2 separate regions of the Homo sapiens genome follow, and region 2 is linked to region 1. Evidence: fine-mapped expression QTL. Tissue or cell type: whole blood. Region 1 holds a variant in brackets; the other region holds the start of a gene. Each region is shown on its reference strand, or each on the opposite one.

Evidence for each region. PIP is the estimated chance that this variant, and not a neighbour inherited with it, causes the effect.
Region 2: SMPD1 starts here. The variant in region 1 is the best candidate, but not a certain one, in a credible set for the expression of SMPD1 in whole blood (TOPMed, PIP 0.69).

The regions. Positions count from the first base shown.
Region 1 is chr2:122,804,150-122,812,485 of GRCh38, forward strand. LOC105373594 (a long non-coding RNA gene) reads right to left here and starts at 4,744. Exons shown (of 4, transcript XR_923289.3): 1 at 4,170-4,744; 2 at 548-1,437. The variant A/G (reference allele first, on the strand shown) is at 5,016.
Region 2 is chr11:6,387,098-6,395,433 of GRCh38, forward strand. SMPD1 (sphingomyelin phosphodiesterase 1) reads left to right here and starts at 3,377. Exons shown (of 6, transcript NM_000543.5): 1 at 3,377-3,819; 2 at 4,287-5,059; 3 at 6,119-6,290; 4 at 6,520-6,596; 5 at 6,799-6,944; 6 at 7,101-7,899. The coding sequence starts at 3,502. The coding sequence ends at 7,510. It overlaps APBB1 (amyloid beta precursor protein binding family B member 1), which reads right to left. Exons shown (of 15, transcript NM_001164.5): 15 at 8,028-8,336. LOC124902624 (a long non-coding RNA gene) reads right to left here and starts at 3,259. Exons shown (of 2, transcript XR_007062573.1): 1 at 3,010-3,259. RefSeq lists a silencer at 3,094-3,593.

The sequences.
Region 1 (8,336 bases):
TTATTAGGCTTTCTGCTGTGGTGGTGAAAGCAGAGATGGAGGTGTATACCTGGAAGAGATTTCATTTTTCTAGATAATTATAGAAGCTAAATCATGAGCTCATCACTCTAGTTTTTTGTATGTTTGAAAATTTTCATAATTCTTAAAAATTATTTTGTACAAAATCATCATGTAAATTTTGAAATACCTCTGAGATATCCAAGAGGAAACATCTCATAGAAGCACTATGTATATTCACTAATGTTTCACGGTGATACAATGATGAGAGACTTACATTTGTAAATTATATTTACTGGAATGTTTTCGATCACCTCGGGAGGTTGTGTTGGGAGAAGAGAGACAAGTAAAGCAAGACTGAATTCTGAGGAATACTGTACAGACATTCTGCAAAGAAGACTCTGGGTTAAAACAGCTGGTGAGGTCAGAGGAAACAGATATACGTGTGTTTATGAATAAAGACAGGAGAAGAAGGTGCTTTAAAAAGAAAGCACATTTCAGCAGTGTTGACTTTTGCAATGAGGTTATGATGAAGCTGAAAAATACGCACTGAGTCAGTCACCATCGTTGTCTTGGGGACTCCATGTTAAAAAAATTCTTTTGGTCAGGGTAGTAACACTCCCTTTGCCTGGCTTAGAATTTAGTTCATCGCTTCTTTACTGTTCCAAATGTCCACATTTGCAGATGAATATGAGGTTATAGCAATTCTTCCATAGTAAGATAAGACCAATATCATTGCTCTCTTCTATAGCTACATAAAGTGTAGGTACCAGGGCCCTAACTTGAGTATAAGTTGTGAAGAATATGAAAACTGAGGTCCACATAGATAAACCCGAATGGCCTATGGGAAAAGCCCATGAAACCTCCTGGCACAGAAAAGTGAGGTTTCCAGGTTAAGTTCCAGATTTTTGTTGAAAATAATGACAATTTTTATTGTCTTTGTTGAAGATAAGTCCAGTAGAGGAAATTCTACTCAGGCTGTCTCATAGTAAGTGATTCTAGCACAGAAAATAGCACAGTGCCTAGCTCACAGAATATGATCAATAAAAAATATGTAGTGACTGATGCTTGCTGGTAATTAATCCTCAGTTGCAATTAAAACACACAACAACTTCATCAAGTATTTACCCATCGTAATTTTTTGGGCCTGGAAATGGAGACTTTTGAGAGGCTAATGACACATCCAACATCTCATAGTTACTAGCAGATTTCATGTTCTAAACAAATTGTTCTGACCTGTCAGGCAACAAGGAGGTAGTAAATTAGCCTTAAGATCATTATGTTACTTGAGTGTCATACATGTACTGGTATATTTCTCATTGTATTGAAGTTTGTTTCTTTTTTTTCTTCATCTCCAAATGTCCTCTGATTGCTATTGTTTCCGTAGCTGAGTCACGCCTGAGACATCTCACTGACTTTCTTTCCTAACTACTTGATAGTCTAATGAAAGGAAAGAGAGGGAGGTGAAGAAATAGAATAAGATAAATTAGTAACTTCTGGACAATTCTGGAAAACTGAAACTATAGGATTAATGTTCAGAGCGAAGTACAATAAATGGACCATAAGTCAAATATTTCATAATAATTCTGTAGAAAGTGACATTTGAAAACTCAAATTGTACAAAACCAAATCTTTCCTTCATGATGGCAAAGGGATGGGTCACACCTTAAATTTCTTCCCAGTCTCCATGCTATAGCCACACTCTATGGGGAAAAATAGCCGGGGGGGGCGGGGGTCATTCCATTACTTGAAATGAAAGACACCATTCTAAAGAAATTTCAAATTTCTTTACATTATTAATACATTATTAACCCTATACATGTTTAGCAATATCTTTCTCAAAGTTAGTAAAAGGAATGCACCATTATTTTGTGAGAGGGGCTGTGGAAAACAGTTCTTGCTTATTGGACATATCTGATGGGGAGAGGTCAGAGGTGTTAATGTAACCAGAGCATGTGCTTCTCTTATACAGTGGGATCCACGAGGGGGATAGATGACTGGTTGTCTGGTGAATGCAGTGTTACTTTTATTAGGCCATAAAAAGGAAAGTTTCAAGGCCAACTAATTGTATTGTTTGTCATAGCAGTGTCCCTGTAAAAGGAGCATATTTTCCAACCTCGGCCTGGGAAGATGCAACATGAACTGTCACTAAAATTAAGGAAACATCTCTAAATCAAACTAATTTAGACTAAATTTAGACTACATTTAGTCATCAGGTAGTTTATGGTGACCCCATTCTCTGCATGTGCTGAAAAACTATGGCTGTCCATCTCTCATAGCCTGGGCAGGTTTGCACAAAATGTATTTGTGCTAGAAATCCAGAAAAACAAACTACCACACACCAGCATAAAAATTGAAGCTCAGAAAAGTGAATTGAAGTCCTCAGAGCATCAGTTTTCTTACTGGTTGTATCCATTTTCTGGACTTGCCATAAAAGTTGCCACAAACTTGGTGGCTTAAAATCAGAGGAATGTGTCGTCTTAATGGTTTTTGAGGCCAGAAGTCCAAAATCAAAGTGTCATCAGAGTCACACTCTCTCCGAAGGCTCTAGGGGAGAATCCTTCCTTGCTCCTCTTGGCTTTGGGTGGCTCCTGAGAGTCCTCAGCTGTGACAGCCTCACTCCAGTCTATGCCTCCATTTTCACGTGTCCCTCTTTCCTGTGTCTGTGTGTCCACTCCTATTCTTATAAGGACTCCATTTATTAAATTTAGGGGCCACCCTAAATCTAGAGTGATTTCATTTCAAGATATTTAACTAATTAAATTTGCAAAGACCCTATTTCCAAATAAGGTCAGGTTCTCAGGTTCTGAGTGAACATGTATTTTGGGACTATTCAATCCACTACACCCGTAGATTGAGCTGGCAGTTCTTAACTTATAAGACTTATTGTGACTGAATAACTTTTCTGTAAAGTATTTGGTAGCTAATAGGTGATCAACAAATTCTTTGTTTTTAAGAATACCACTATAGTTATCTTTAATCCTGACCATGACTGTCTGAATATTCTCATTTTCTTAAATATATTAGTATGTTCAATTCTTACACTGGTCTAGGCATTCATTATGGAAGCAACCTGCTATATGTAAATAAGCATGATTTTAATCCTATCTAGTAGGCTGTGTGTTATAAATGATCCCTAGAAACATAGACATTCCGTTGTGGGAGCACGGAAAAGGGAGTGATGATTTCTGAGAAGATATGACTTGTAACTTTCCAATAACACTTTTCTAGAAGGGTCTCATGTTAAAATAAATAAATGTCAAACTAAACTAAGAGACAGCACTATAATGTACTAATTGGCTCCCAGATTAGGGCTCTTAACCATCAGGCTATTCTGCCTCCCAAATTAAAATTGGTAGCGGGACATGAATTTATTGTTTGAAATGAGCACAGGTTAAGTAAAATGAGAACTATGGAAAAACAATGACAGGAAGAACGGGAGAATTATACTTTGCTAACAGTAATAGTAAATAGTGAACATTTATTGTAAATAAGTTTAACAATACGCATTTAAGACAAATTTAAGAGCTTATATTTTTTGACCAGTAATTCCTTATTTAAGAATCTAACTTTGGAAATCATACAGGATTTGTAGAACCTTTTTACAGAAAGATACTCATTCTGGAAATATTTTTAACACTGAGATTTGGAAACAATATAATGCCCAACCTCAAAGGATTAATAAATTAAATTGTGATATTATCCTCAATTGAATACTATGTGGTCATTATAATTCATGTTTCAAAAGAGTATAATAAAATAGGAGAGTCCTGGGCTTTTACTCTGAGTGATGTTGGAAGCCATTGAAGGTGGAGGAGAAAGAAATGAGAAGAACGTTTCCAAACAATGAAGATGTCCAGCCAGTCATTGACAAAAATGTTCTGTTAATCATGGTGGATGGGAAGTAGGACTAGATTGCAGCTCTGTATAGATCAGTGTGCAGAGGCTCGCATTGTGAATTTTAGCTCCAGGTTGACTGCAAGAACAAGCCAGCAATCCCGAGAGTACCCACAGACTCTCTGAAGGAAGCGAACTGTTTCTGCAGTACCCAAGAGACACCACAAATACTGTCAGTGCCCCGACGCTGGAAGTGGTAAAGGGAGACCCCCCTCTCTGGAACACACAGCCCCACTGGAGAAACTGAAGGTCTCTTTGTGGGAGAAGTTTCCTACCTTCTCTGGAGTTGAATCCATTTAGAGAGCTGAGCAAAATACAGGGTTTGAGGAAGCAGTAGAAAGGCCCTGGGAGCTCACTGGGTGCCCAAACAGGCCATTCCTGCTTGGCACCACAGGGATCCATTGTGAGGGTGGCCAGAGGAGCAGGTGTTGAAACTCCACAGGAAGAAAGAAATCTATAGTTGAACTTTGTAACAATTTGAACAGGGCGAGAAGCCTCCTGGCCAGAACTCATGGGAGGGCACAAATCTGTTGTGCAGACTCCACAGGCAGGGGAAGAACCAAGCCCTTTTTTTCCATAGTTGAGAGGCAGGTAGCCTGAGGCAAGTTTTCAAGCCCATCTTGCCCACCACCTGGAAACAGGCTCCATGAGAACTGCTCTTTGGTTTGCATGGGAGCTGGGTGAGGCCTATGACTGCCGGCTTTCCCCCACTTCCCTGACAACCTGCATGACTCAGCAGAGGCAGCATAATCCTCCTATGTACACAACTCCATTAACCTGGGCATCTCACCCCTATCCCCCACAACAGCCACAGAAAGACCCACACAAGGAGAGTCAGAGCTCAGACACACCTAGCCCCACCCCCAACTAATGGCCCCTCCCTATCCACCGTGGTAACCGAAGACAAAGGGCATATAACCTTGGGAGTTCTAGGACCCCCAACCCCCACCACTGGTCCCTATACATACTACTACAGCTGATACTCCCTGGAGCTGATTCCTCCTGGCAGGAGGCCAACCATCACAAAACTAGAGCATTAAAGCTAAGAACCCTCACGGAGTCCATTGCACTCCCCACCACCTCCACTGGAACAGGAACTGGTATCCATGGCTGAGAGACCA[A/G]TAGACGGTTCACATCACAGTACTCCGTGCAGACAACCCCCAGTGCCAGCCCGGAGCTGAGTAGAGTCACTAGGTGGCTAGACCCAGAAAAGAGACAACAAACACTGCAATTTAGCTCACAGGAAGCCACATCTATAGGAAAAAGGGGAGAGTACTACAACAAGTAAACACACCCATGGGACAAAAGAATCTGAACAACAGCCTTCAGCCCTAGAACTTCCCTCTGATAGAGCCTACCCAAGTGAGAAGGAACCAGAAAACCAACCCTGGTAATATGAGAAAACATACCTCTTTAACAGCCCCCAAAATCACCCTAATTCACCAGCAATGGAGACAAACCAAGAAGAAATCCCTGATTAACCTGAAAAAGAATTTAGGAGGTTAGTTATTAAGCTAATCAGGGAGGCACCAGAGAAGCGCAAAGCTCAATGCAAGAGAATCCAAAAAATGATATAAAAGTGAAGGGAAAAATATTCAAGGAAATAGATAGCTTAAAGCAAAAACAATAAAAAATTCAGGACACTCTGAACACACTTTCAGAAATGCAAAATGCTCTGGAAAATCTCAGCAATATAATTGAACAAGTAGAAGAAAGAAATTCATAGCTCAAAAAGAAGGTCTTCAAATTAACCCAATCCAAGAAAGACAAAGAAAAAATAATAAGAAAATATGAAAAAAGCCTCCAAGAAGTCTGGGATTATGTTAAATGACCAAAACTAAGAATAATTGGTGTTCCTGAGGAAGAAGGTAAGACTAAGGAAAGAATCTTAAGAGCTGTGAGGCAGGAGCACCAGGTAACCTATAAAGGAAAACCTATCAGATTAGCAGCAGATTTTTCAACAGAAACCCTGCAAGCTAGAAGGGATTGGGGCCCTATCTTCAGCCTCCTCAAACAAAACACTATTCAGCCAAGAATTTTGTATCCAATGAAACTATACATCACATATGAAGGAAAGATACAGTCTTTTTCAGACTAACAAATGCTGAGAGAATTCACCATTACCAAGCCACCACTACAATAACTGCTAAAAGGAACCCTAAATCTTGAAACAAATCCTGGAAACACTCAAAACAGAATATTTTTAAGGAATAAATCACACAGGATCTATTACAAAAATACTAGCTAAAAAGCAAAAAAAAAAAAACCAAAATACACAGGAAACAAAGAGTATGATGAATGCAATAGTACCTCGCATTTCAATACTAACATTGAATGTATATGGCATAAATGCTCCACTTAGATATATAACCGCAGAATGGAAAAGAACTTACCAACCAATCATCTGCTGCCCTCAGGAGACTCACCTAACACGTAAGGATTCACATAAACCTAAGTACAGGGGTGGAAAGAGGCATTTCATGCAAATGGACACCAAAAGCTAGCAGGGGTAGCTATTCTTATATCAGACAAATCAAACTTTAAAGCAACAGCAGTTAAAAGAGACAAAGAAGGACATTAAAGGCCTTGTCCAAAAGGAAAATATCACAATCCTAAACATATATGCACCTAACACTGGAGCTTTCAAATTTATAAAACAATTACTAATAGACCTAAGAAATGAGATAGACAGCAACATAGACACCAATAGTGGAGGATTTCAATACTCCACTGACAACACTAGACAATTCATCAAGACAGAAGGCCAAAAAAGAAACAATGGATTTACACTATGCCATGGAACAAATGGACTTAACAGATATGTACAGAACATTTCATCCAACAACTGCAGAATACACATTCTATTCAATAGCACATGGAACTTTCTCCAAGATTCACCATATGATAGGCCATAAAACAAGCCTCAATAAATGTAAGAAAATTGAAATTATATCAAGCACCCTTTCAGACTACAGTGGAATAAAACCGGGAATCAACTCTAAAAGGAATCTTCAAAACCATACAAATACATGGAAATTAAATAACCTGCTCCTGAATGAGCACTGAGTCAAAAACAAAATCAAGATGGAAATTTAAAAATTCTTCAACGTGAATGGCAATAATGACACAACCTATCAAAACCTCTGGGATACAGAAAAGGCAGTGCTAAGAGGAAAGTTTATAACCGTAAATGCCTACATCAAAAGGTCTATAAGAGGGCCAGGTTCGGTGGCTCATGCCTGTGATTGCAGCACTTTGGGAGGCCGAGGTGGGTGGATCACCTGAGGTCAGGAGTTCAAGACGAGCCTGACCAATATTGAGAAACTCCGTCTCTACTAAATATACAAAAAATTAGCCAGGCCTGGTGGCACATGCCTGTAATCCCAGCTACTCGGGAGGCTGAAGCAGGAGAATCTCTTGAACCCAGGAGGCGGAAGTTGAGGTGAGCTGAGATTGCGCCATTGTACTCCAGCCTGGGCAACAAGATTAAAAAAAAAAAAAAAAGTCTGAAAGAGAACAAACACACAATCTAAGGTCACACCACAAGGAATTAGAGAAATAATAACAAATCAAACCCAAACCCAGCAGAAGAAAGGAAATAACCAGGATCAGAGCAGAACTAAATGAAATGGACACACACACACAAATATAGAAGGTAAATGAAACAAAATGCTGGTTCTTTGAAAAGATAAATAAAACTGATAGACCATTAGCAAGATTAACCAATAAACGAAGGCAGAAAGTCCAAATAACCTCAATAAGAAACCAAACAGGAGACATTACAACTGACGTCACTGAAATACAGGATATCATTCAAGGCTACTATGAACACCTTTATGCATATAAACTAGAAAACCTAGAAGAGATGGATAAATTTCTGGAAAAATACAACCTTCCTAGCTTAAATCGGGAAGAATTAGATACCCTTAACAGACCAATAACAAGCAGCGAGATTGAAATAGTAATTTAAAAAATACAAACAACAACAACAAAAAAAGTCCAGGACCAGACGGATTCCCAGCAGAATTCTACCAGATATTCAAAGAAGAATTGGTACCAATCCTTTGACACTACTTTACAAAATACAAAAAGAAGGAACCCTCCCTAATTCTTTCTATGAAGCTAGCATCACCCTAATACCAAAACCAGGAAAGGACGTAATCAAAAAAGAAAACTACAGACCAATATTCTTGATGAACCTACATGCTAAAATCCTTAACATTATGCTAGCTAACTGAATCCAACAACATATCAAAAAGATAATTCACCATGATCAAGTGGGTTTTATACCAGGGATGCAGGGATGGTTTAACATATGCAAGTCAATAAATGTGATGCACCACACAAACAGAATTAAATACAAAAATCACGTGACCATCTCAATAGCTGTAGAAAAAACATTCAACAAAATCCAGCATCCCTTTAATATTAAAACTCTCTCC
Region 2 (8,336 bases), not on the chromosome of region 1:
GCCTGTAATCCCAGCTACTCGGGAGGCTGAGGCAGGAGAATCCCTTGAATCTGGGTGGGGGAGGTTGCAGTAAGCCAAGATCACCCCATTGCACTCCAGCCCGGGCAATAAGAGTGAAACTCTGTCCCGCCCCCCACCCCAAACCAAAAAACATATATATATATATATATATATATATATATATATATATATATATGGCAAAGAAACATGTTTTGGGGTAAAATATTTTGACTTTCTTCTTTATCACGTAATTTTATGCCAGAGTATGACTGAAAAGGCAGTCACAATATATAGTGTTAAATAAAACCCAACTGATAAGAATTTATGGTTTGTAGGGCATGACTCCCCAGACCCTTTCGATAGGAATTTGAGCAAGATAAGAAAAAATCAGAGCTTAGTCCTCATTAGGAACTGCCTCTTCTTCTCCTTTAAAAACCCACTTGTGACTTCTGCTAATTGGGAGCATATACTCAGGGCAACTTGAATCTTCGCTTCACAGTCTTCAAACTTGGCCCAAATAAACTCTCTACTTATATCAAGTTTGCCTTAGATTTTTCCCTTTAGGTTGACATTTCCCAGAAGTTTTAATCAGATGAAGAAAGCTCCCAGAAGGTTTATTTCTGCATCTATTGAATCTGAAATGTCTTCGGCTTAAAATAATTGTTATACCAACTCTGGTGTTCTGAATGGGTCCCCACACAGCAAAGAATAGAGCCAGAATGTTGCATTTGTGAAAGGAAAATAAAAACTCAGGACTCCAGTTGACTATGCCAAAAGGAAAAAAAATAAACTGAAAACTGAGTCATGCAAGAAGCTGCCTTTCCTTTTGTTCCTAAGCAGATAGCTACAGACAAAAGGTTAAATATTTACAAAATTAGCCGGGTGTGGTGGCACATGCCTGTAATCCCAGCTACTCAGTAGGCTGAGGCAGGAGAATCACTTGAACCCGGGAGGCAGAGGTTGTGGTGAGCCGAGATTGCGCCATTGCACTCCAGCCTGGTCAACAACAGCGAAAACTCTGTCTCAAAAAAAAAAAAACAAAAAAAACACAAAAGGTTAAATATCTCCACAGGCATATTTACTTTATCTTATGTAAAGTGCCAGACGAACACATAATTGAGTATCTCCCTACCTGCTCCTTTTCTCTTGCGACATGTGGATTACCATACCCTTCTTCTTTCCCTCCAGCTCACTTTTCCCCTTTAAATATTGAAGCCCTCAAAATCATCTTTGGAGAAAGCCACAGACCACAGACTGTTTCTGCGATTCCGTGTTTATTTCTTCCAGCCATGTCCTTAACCTTGGCAAAATAAACCTCTAAATTGATTGAGACCTGTCTCAGACATGTTTTGCTTGACACATCCAAATTCCAGTTCCAGCACTTACTAGCTAGCTGTGGGATCTTGAGCCACTTACTTAATCCTACTTTCCTTCTCCGTAAAATGGGGATAATTATAATACCGACTTCCAAATTTGTTGTGAGGATTAACGTAAGGCAGAGTCCTCAGAAAAGTACCTACAGAGGGTTATTCGGGCCAAGGGCCAAGGTTGAGGACTGCGACCCAGGACACACTTGCAAGTTGTCTTGGGGGAGCACTCTGGACAACAAAAGAGAGGCTCATATTTTCAAAGAAAAAAAGATGAATTAGGAGAGGAAATGAATACAAAAGTTGTTCATCAGGAATTCTCATTGTTTACAGAAATAACACTGGTTATACATTGTTTAGCGCTTGGCTATACATTGTTGAACTATAAGGTGTATGGCATTTAATGGCTACTTGGCATAGCAAGTGGTTTCAAGAGATAATTACTTAGCTCAAAGAAGAGTGAGAGTGACTGTTGCTACATTTTAAATGCCTGTCTGGGCCTGATAATTTAAAGGGGCTCATCTTCCTTAGATAAAAAGGTTTTGTTTTGTTTTGTTTTTCATAGTACATAATCTTAAAAATGCATGCTAATTATTACTGTGAGTACTCTATCTGAGATGATGTCCCCAGAACTGGGGGGAAAAAACACTTGTAAAAAATTATCAAAGGAAAGAACTGACAGGACTTGATAGCTCTGAGGATTCCTCAGAAGCACTCGTCAAACAGCTTAGGGTTTAATTGCTATTCTGCCACTTAACTTCTTTGTGCCTCATCCTATCTGTAAAGGAGGGTAATAATAGTATTTGCAGGGACCAAGGGAAACTTTCCCTTCGCCCTCTGAAATTCTGCTGAAAAATCAACCCACAAAAAACAGATTAATTGAAGAAAAGGCATAGAAATTGTATTAATGTGTCCACGGGGAACCACAGAGTGACTACCCACTTCCCAGACGAGTTCAGAAGCTTAGGTGTCATTCAGGCAAAGGGGGTTGTGGGAGTGAGGGGAAGAGGAATTCTGCTGAGGGAGAAGGAATGGATCAGGGAACAGATTAACTAGCACATTATCATGTGAAGGGGTCTGTTCAGGTGTGATTATATTCTTGGTTTTGTAGGGAGGGGAAGAAAAAAACCGTTGTTCCTTTTGATGGGTCTGGACGCTAGGTAACGGCTTTGGGAGAGAGGGCGCGGGAGTAGGAAGGCCAGACACACCTTAAGGCTTAACTTAGTAAGTCAAACCACCATATTTTGGGTATGGATTTCTGAGCCCCAATATAATAGGTACTTCTTAGGGTTGTTGTGAGAATTGAAGATTATTAATTATAAAGTGCCTGGGTTGGTGCTTGGCACATCATAAACAACTCCATAAATGCTCGCTTTTACTGTCGTGGATACACGGAGGTGGGAGACCCAATTGGGTTCCCGCCCATGTTATTGGCCCCCACGGCTATATGGTCTTTACGGCTTCCTAGTCTCTTCACCATCTCTAAGGTTTGTTTCCTCATCTGAATCACAGGTGAGTGATTCTCAGGGTGACTCAAGAGGGCTGGTGCCAGTGGCAGAGCATGGGGAATCGAGGGAAGGCGCCTTCCTGTCAGAGGCAACACACCCAGTGGGAGGATCCTGCCCGCCCTGCTCTCTCCTACCTCCCCTTCCCGGGCTAAACGCTGGGGTCGGTCTGGCAGCTATTCCGGGAATCTGAGCGCGGATTCTGACAAAGGAGACGTCTTCCACCGACCACATCACATGGAGCTCCAAAGCACGAGCACGGCCTCCCGCGGCTGTGACCTCAAGGCGGAGCCCCTGGTGACCTCAGGGAGAGTCCCCACCCCCGCAGCCCGTGCGCCCGGGGCAGGGCGGGGGCAGGGAGAGGGGGCGGAATCGGGGCGGTCCCGGGAGCGCCCCGCCCCCTCCGCCTCCGCAGCGTTGACAGCCGCCCGCCACCGAGAGATCAGCTGTCAGAGATCAGAGGAAGAGGAAGGGGCGGAGCTGCTTTGCGGCCGGCCGCGGAGCAGTCAGCCGACTACAGAGAAGGGTAATCGGGTGTCCCCGGCGCCGCCCGGGGCCCTGAGGGCTGGCTAGGGTCCAGGCCGGGGGGGACGGGACAGACGAACCAGCCCCGTGTAGGAAGCGCGACAATGCCCCGCTACGGAGCGTCACTCCGCCAGAGCTGCCCCAGGTCCGGCCGGGAGCAGGGACAAGACGGGACCGCCGGAGCCCCCGGACTCCTTTGGATGGGCCTGGTGCTGGCGCTGGCGCTGGCGCTGGCGCTGGCGCTGGCTCTGTCTGACTCTCGGGTTCTCTGGGCTCCGGCAGAGGCTCACCCTCTTTCTCCCCAAGGCCATCCTGCCAGGTTACATCGCATAGTGCCCCGGCTCCGAGATGTCTTTGGGTGGGGGAACCTCACCTGCCCAATCTGCAAAGGTCTATTCACCGCCATCAACCTCGGGCTGAAGGTGAGCACTGAAGGGGCTGCAGTGGAGGAGGCCGAAAGGAGTGCTGGGGCTGGGGGCTGGGGCTGATGCTGGTGCGCTGGGCTCAGAATGCATCCCTGATGGAGAGGGTGGCATCTACAATCCATCACTGAGTTTGCTCCCCTTTGGGGACACCCATGGCTACATGCCACCATCACCCCATTGTGACCTTTGTGAAGTAAGAAAATAATGCAGACAGTGCCTGAGGAAGTCAGCTTGCCAAGCAAAGGCCTCATGCCACAGGCCGCTGAGCTAAAGAAGAAGCGATGGCCTGGTGCTGCCTGAGTTACAGGGCAATATCTGGAAGGCAAAGGTGTGCACTGAGCTTGGTGCACTGAGTCCTGCCCAGCCCCAGTTTGGAAATGGAGGCCCAAGGGGTGGTGGCCAGGGGTTGGCCTGGTTCCTCTGCTCTGCCTCTGATTTCTCACCATGCGCTCCTCCCACTGCAGAAGGAACCCAATGTGGCTCGCGTGGGCTCCGTGGCCATCAAGCTGTGCAATCTGCTGAAGATAGCACCACCTGCCGTGTGCCAATCCATTGTCCACCTCTTTGAGGATGACATGGTGGAGGTGTGGAGACGCTCAGTGCTGAGCCCATCTGAGGCCTGTGGCCTGCTCCTGGGCTCCACCTGTGGGCACTGGGACATTTTCTCATCTTGGAACATCTCTTTGCCTACTGTGCCGAAGCCGCCCCCCAAACCCCCTAGCCCCCCAGCCCCAGGTGCCCCTGTCAGCCGCATCCTCTTCCTCACTGACCTGCACTGGGATCATGACTACCTGGAGGGCACGGACCCTGACTGTGCAGACCCACTGTGCTGCCGCCGGGGTTCTGGCCTGCCGCCCGCATCCCGGCCAGGTGCCGGATACTGGGGCGAATACAGCAAGTGTGACCTGCCCCTGAGGACCCTGGAGAGCCTGTTGAGTGGGCTGGGCCCAGCCGGCCCTTTTGATATGGTGTACTGGACAGGAGACATCCCCGCACATGATGTCTGGCACCAGACTCGTCAGGACCAACTGCGGGCCCTGACCACCGTCACAGCACTTGTGAGGAAGTTCCTGGGGCCAGTGCCAGTGTACCCTGCTGTGGGTAACCATGAAAGCACACCTGTCAATAGCTTCCCTCCCCCCTTCATTGAGGGCAACCACTCCTCCCGCTGGCTCTATGAAGCGATGGCCAAGGCTTGGGAGCCCTGGCTGCCTGCCGAAGCCCTGCGCACCCTCAGGTACTTATCGTCCGTGGAAACCCAGGAAGGGAAAAGAAAGGTGAATGAAAGTGAAGGGAGAAGGGAACCTGGGGCATTGTCTCTGATTGCTCTAGCATGAGTCCTTAGTGCTCTTCATTTGGCTCCCCTAATCTGACTCCTCCTTCCCTTTCTACTGTTTTGCCGCACCAGGCTTTTTTTTTTTTTTTTTTTTTAGTTTAGTTTTTGTAGAGACAAGATCTTGCTATGTTGCCCAGGCTGGTCTCAAACACCTAACCTCAAGCAATCCTCCCGCCTCGGCCTCCCAAAATGCTGGGACCACAGGCATCAGCTACTGCTCCTGGCCCTCCCTTTTTTTTTTTTTTTTTTTTTTTTTTTTTGAGATGGAATCTTGCTCTGTTGCCCAGGCTGGAGTGCAGTGGCACCATCTCAGCTCACTACAGCCTCCACCTCCTGGGTTCAAGCAATTCTGCCTCAGCCTCCCAAGTACCTGGGACTACAGGTGCACGCCACCACACCCAGCTAATTTTTGTATTTTTAGTAGAGATGGGGTTTCACCATGTTGGCCAAGATGGTCTTGATCTCCTGACCTCATGATCTGCCCACCTCGGCCTCCCAAAGTGCTGGGATTACAGGCATGAACCACTGCACCCAGCTTTCCAGCCCTCCCTTTCTACTCTTATCTCCAGCCACCCTCCTTCAAAGGTCTGGCAGCATAACCTCTCTATGCCCCAGCTGTGTCTTTGCTCATGTTGGCCCTCTGGAAATGATTTCCCCCTTTTTTTTAAGTGCTCCAGTTTTTCCCACCTTATCCATCCCATGTCATCTTCCCTCTGTGTGGTCCTTGCTTCCCATTCTAGCTAACTCTTATCCCTCCCCCATACTCCTGGAGCCCTCTGCCCTCAGAGTCTTTTGTGTCACACAGACCCAATAATTAGAACTGTTTGGTCTCTGGCTAGACTGTGAGCTCCTTGCAGGTGGGGAAGATGTCATGTATGCTTTTACCCTCCACCCAAATGCCCAGCACAGGAGGACCAGGATTGGAACAAGTGTTGACCTCTCATGTTTACTTTGTTTCAGAATTGGGGGGTTCTATGCTCTTTCCCCATACCCCGGTCTCCGCCTCATCTCTCTCAATATGAATTTTTGTTCCCGTGAGAACTTCTGGCTCTTGATCAACTCCACGGATCCCGCAGGACAGCTCCAGTGGCTGGTGGGGGAGCTTCAGGCTGCTGAGGATCGAGGAGACAAAGTGAGGGCCAGTAGTGGGAACACGGTGGTGCTGGGGGACAAGCAGGCTCCTGTTGAGCTGGAGCACCTCTGGGCACAGAAGTTTTATTTTCCTGGCATTCCCAACAAGTGTTCCCTGGGGATTCAGCTCATGGTCACTGTTGAAAGCCTTCATTCAGTCCCCCTTTCTCTAGCCAGGGCTGCCTGGACCCCTGGATGCCCTGATTACCATCCTTAATTCTCCCTACTAGGTGCATATAATTGGCCACATTCCCCCAGGGCACTGTCTGAAGAGCTGGAGCTGGAATTATTACCGAATTGTAGCCAGGTAGGACGGAGATGAGGGTGGGAATAGGGACAGGGTGAGTGTCTGAAGGCTGAAAATTCCCTTGAGCATCTCACCATCCCTGTTGTCCCATGGAGTGGGGAGGCTCCTCACTAGAACAGGTTGGAGAAAGAGGGCATCCTATCTCCCCAGATGTCTTCCTACCCCTCCCTAGAATCTTCTGAATGTAGTACCTTCTGGCCAGGTATGAGAACACCCTGGCTGCTCAGTTCTTTGGCCACACTCATGTGGATGAATTTGAGGTCTTCTATGATGAAGAGACTCTGAGCCGGCCGCTGGCTGTAGCCTTCCTGGCACCCAGTGCAACTACCTACATCGGCCTTAATCCTGGTGAGTGAGGCAGAAGGGAGCCTCCCTTATCCTGGAGTTGGTGGGATAGGGGAAGGAGGTTGGAGCCAGAGCCTGCAAAGCATGGGCAGGATGTGTGGCCCCTCCCTGGAGTTACCCTTGCTCCTTGCCCCTCCAGTCAGCCCCACATCCTTGCAGGTTACCGTGTGTACCAAATAGATGGAAACTACTCCGGGAGCTCTCACGTGGTCCTGGACCATGAGACCTACATCCTGAATCTGACCCAGGCAAACATACCGGGAGCCATACCGCACTGGCAGCTTCTCTACAGGGCTCGAGAAACCTATGGGCTGCCCAACACACTGCCTACCGCCTGGCACAACCTGGTATATCGCATGCGGGGCGACATGCAACTTTTCCAGACCTTCTGGTTTCTCTACCATAAGGGCCACCCACCCTCGGAGCCCTGTGGCACGCCCTGCCGTCTGGCTACTCTTTGTGCCCAGCTCTCTGCCCGTGCTGACAGCCCTGCTCTGTGCCGCCACCTGATGCCAGATGGGAGCCTCCCAGAGGCCCAGAGCCTGTGGCCAAGGCCACTGTTTTGCTAGGGCCCCAGGGCCCACATTTGGGAAAGTTCTTGATGTAGGAAAGGGTGAAAAAGCCCAAATGCTGCTGTGGTTCAACCAGGCAAGATCATCCGGTGAAAGAACCAGTCCCTGGGCCCCAAGGATGCCGGGGAAACAGGACCTTCTCCTTTCCTGGAGCTGGTTTAGCTGGATATGGGAGGGGGTTTGGCTGCCTGTGCCCAGGAGCTAGACTGCCTTGAGGCTGCTGTCCTTTCACAGCCATGGAGTAGAGGCCTAAGTTGACACTGCCCTGGGCAGACAAGACAGGAGCTGTCGCCCCAGGCCTGTGCTGCCCAGCCAGGAACCCTGTACTGCTGCTGCGACCTGATGCTGCCAGTCTGTTAAAATAAAGATAAGAGACTTGGACTCCAGACCCCTGTGTGACTGTCCCAATTTCTTCTTTCCAGGCAAGCAGGGCAAGGAGATCTTTGGAGCAAGATCATAACTGAGGCACAGGCTAATGGGTTGATGGTGTGGTACAGGCATAAGAAGGCACACAGCAGTGCAGACAGACTTTATTAGTGATATCAATACAGCAGAGGTGCCCATGGAGCAGGGGGAAGGGACCCATGCCTGGACCAGTCCCTTCCTCCTTCTGCCCCTGCTGGGTCCAGGAGGATGAGGCCTGGCCTGGACCAGTTCCTCCTGTTCCACCTGAAACACATGGGGATGGAGAACCAGGGCTGGCCTTGCTTCCTGCTCCTCTTGTTACCACTCCAGTGTTATCACTTCCTTGAAGGGATTAGATCTCTCCCTCCCCAGCTCCTAGGCAGGGAACCGTAGCTACTGGGGAGGGGCATATTTGGGA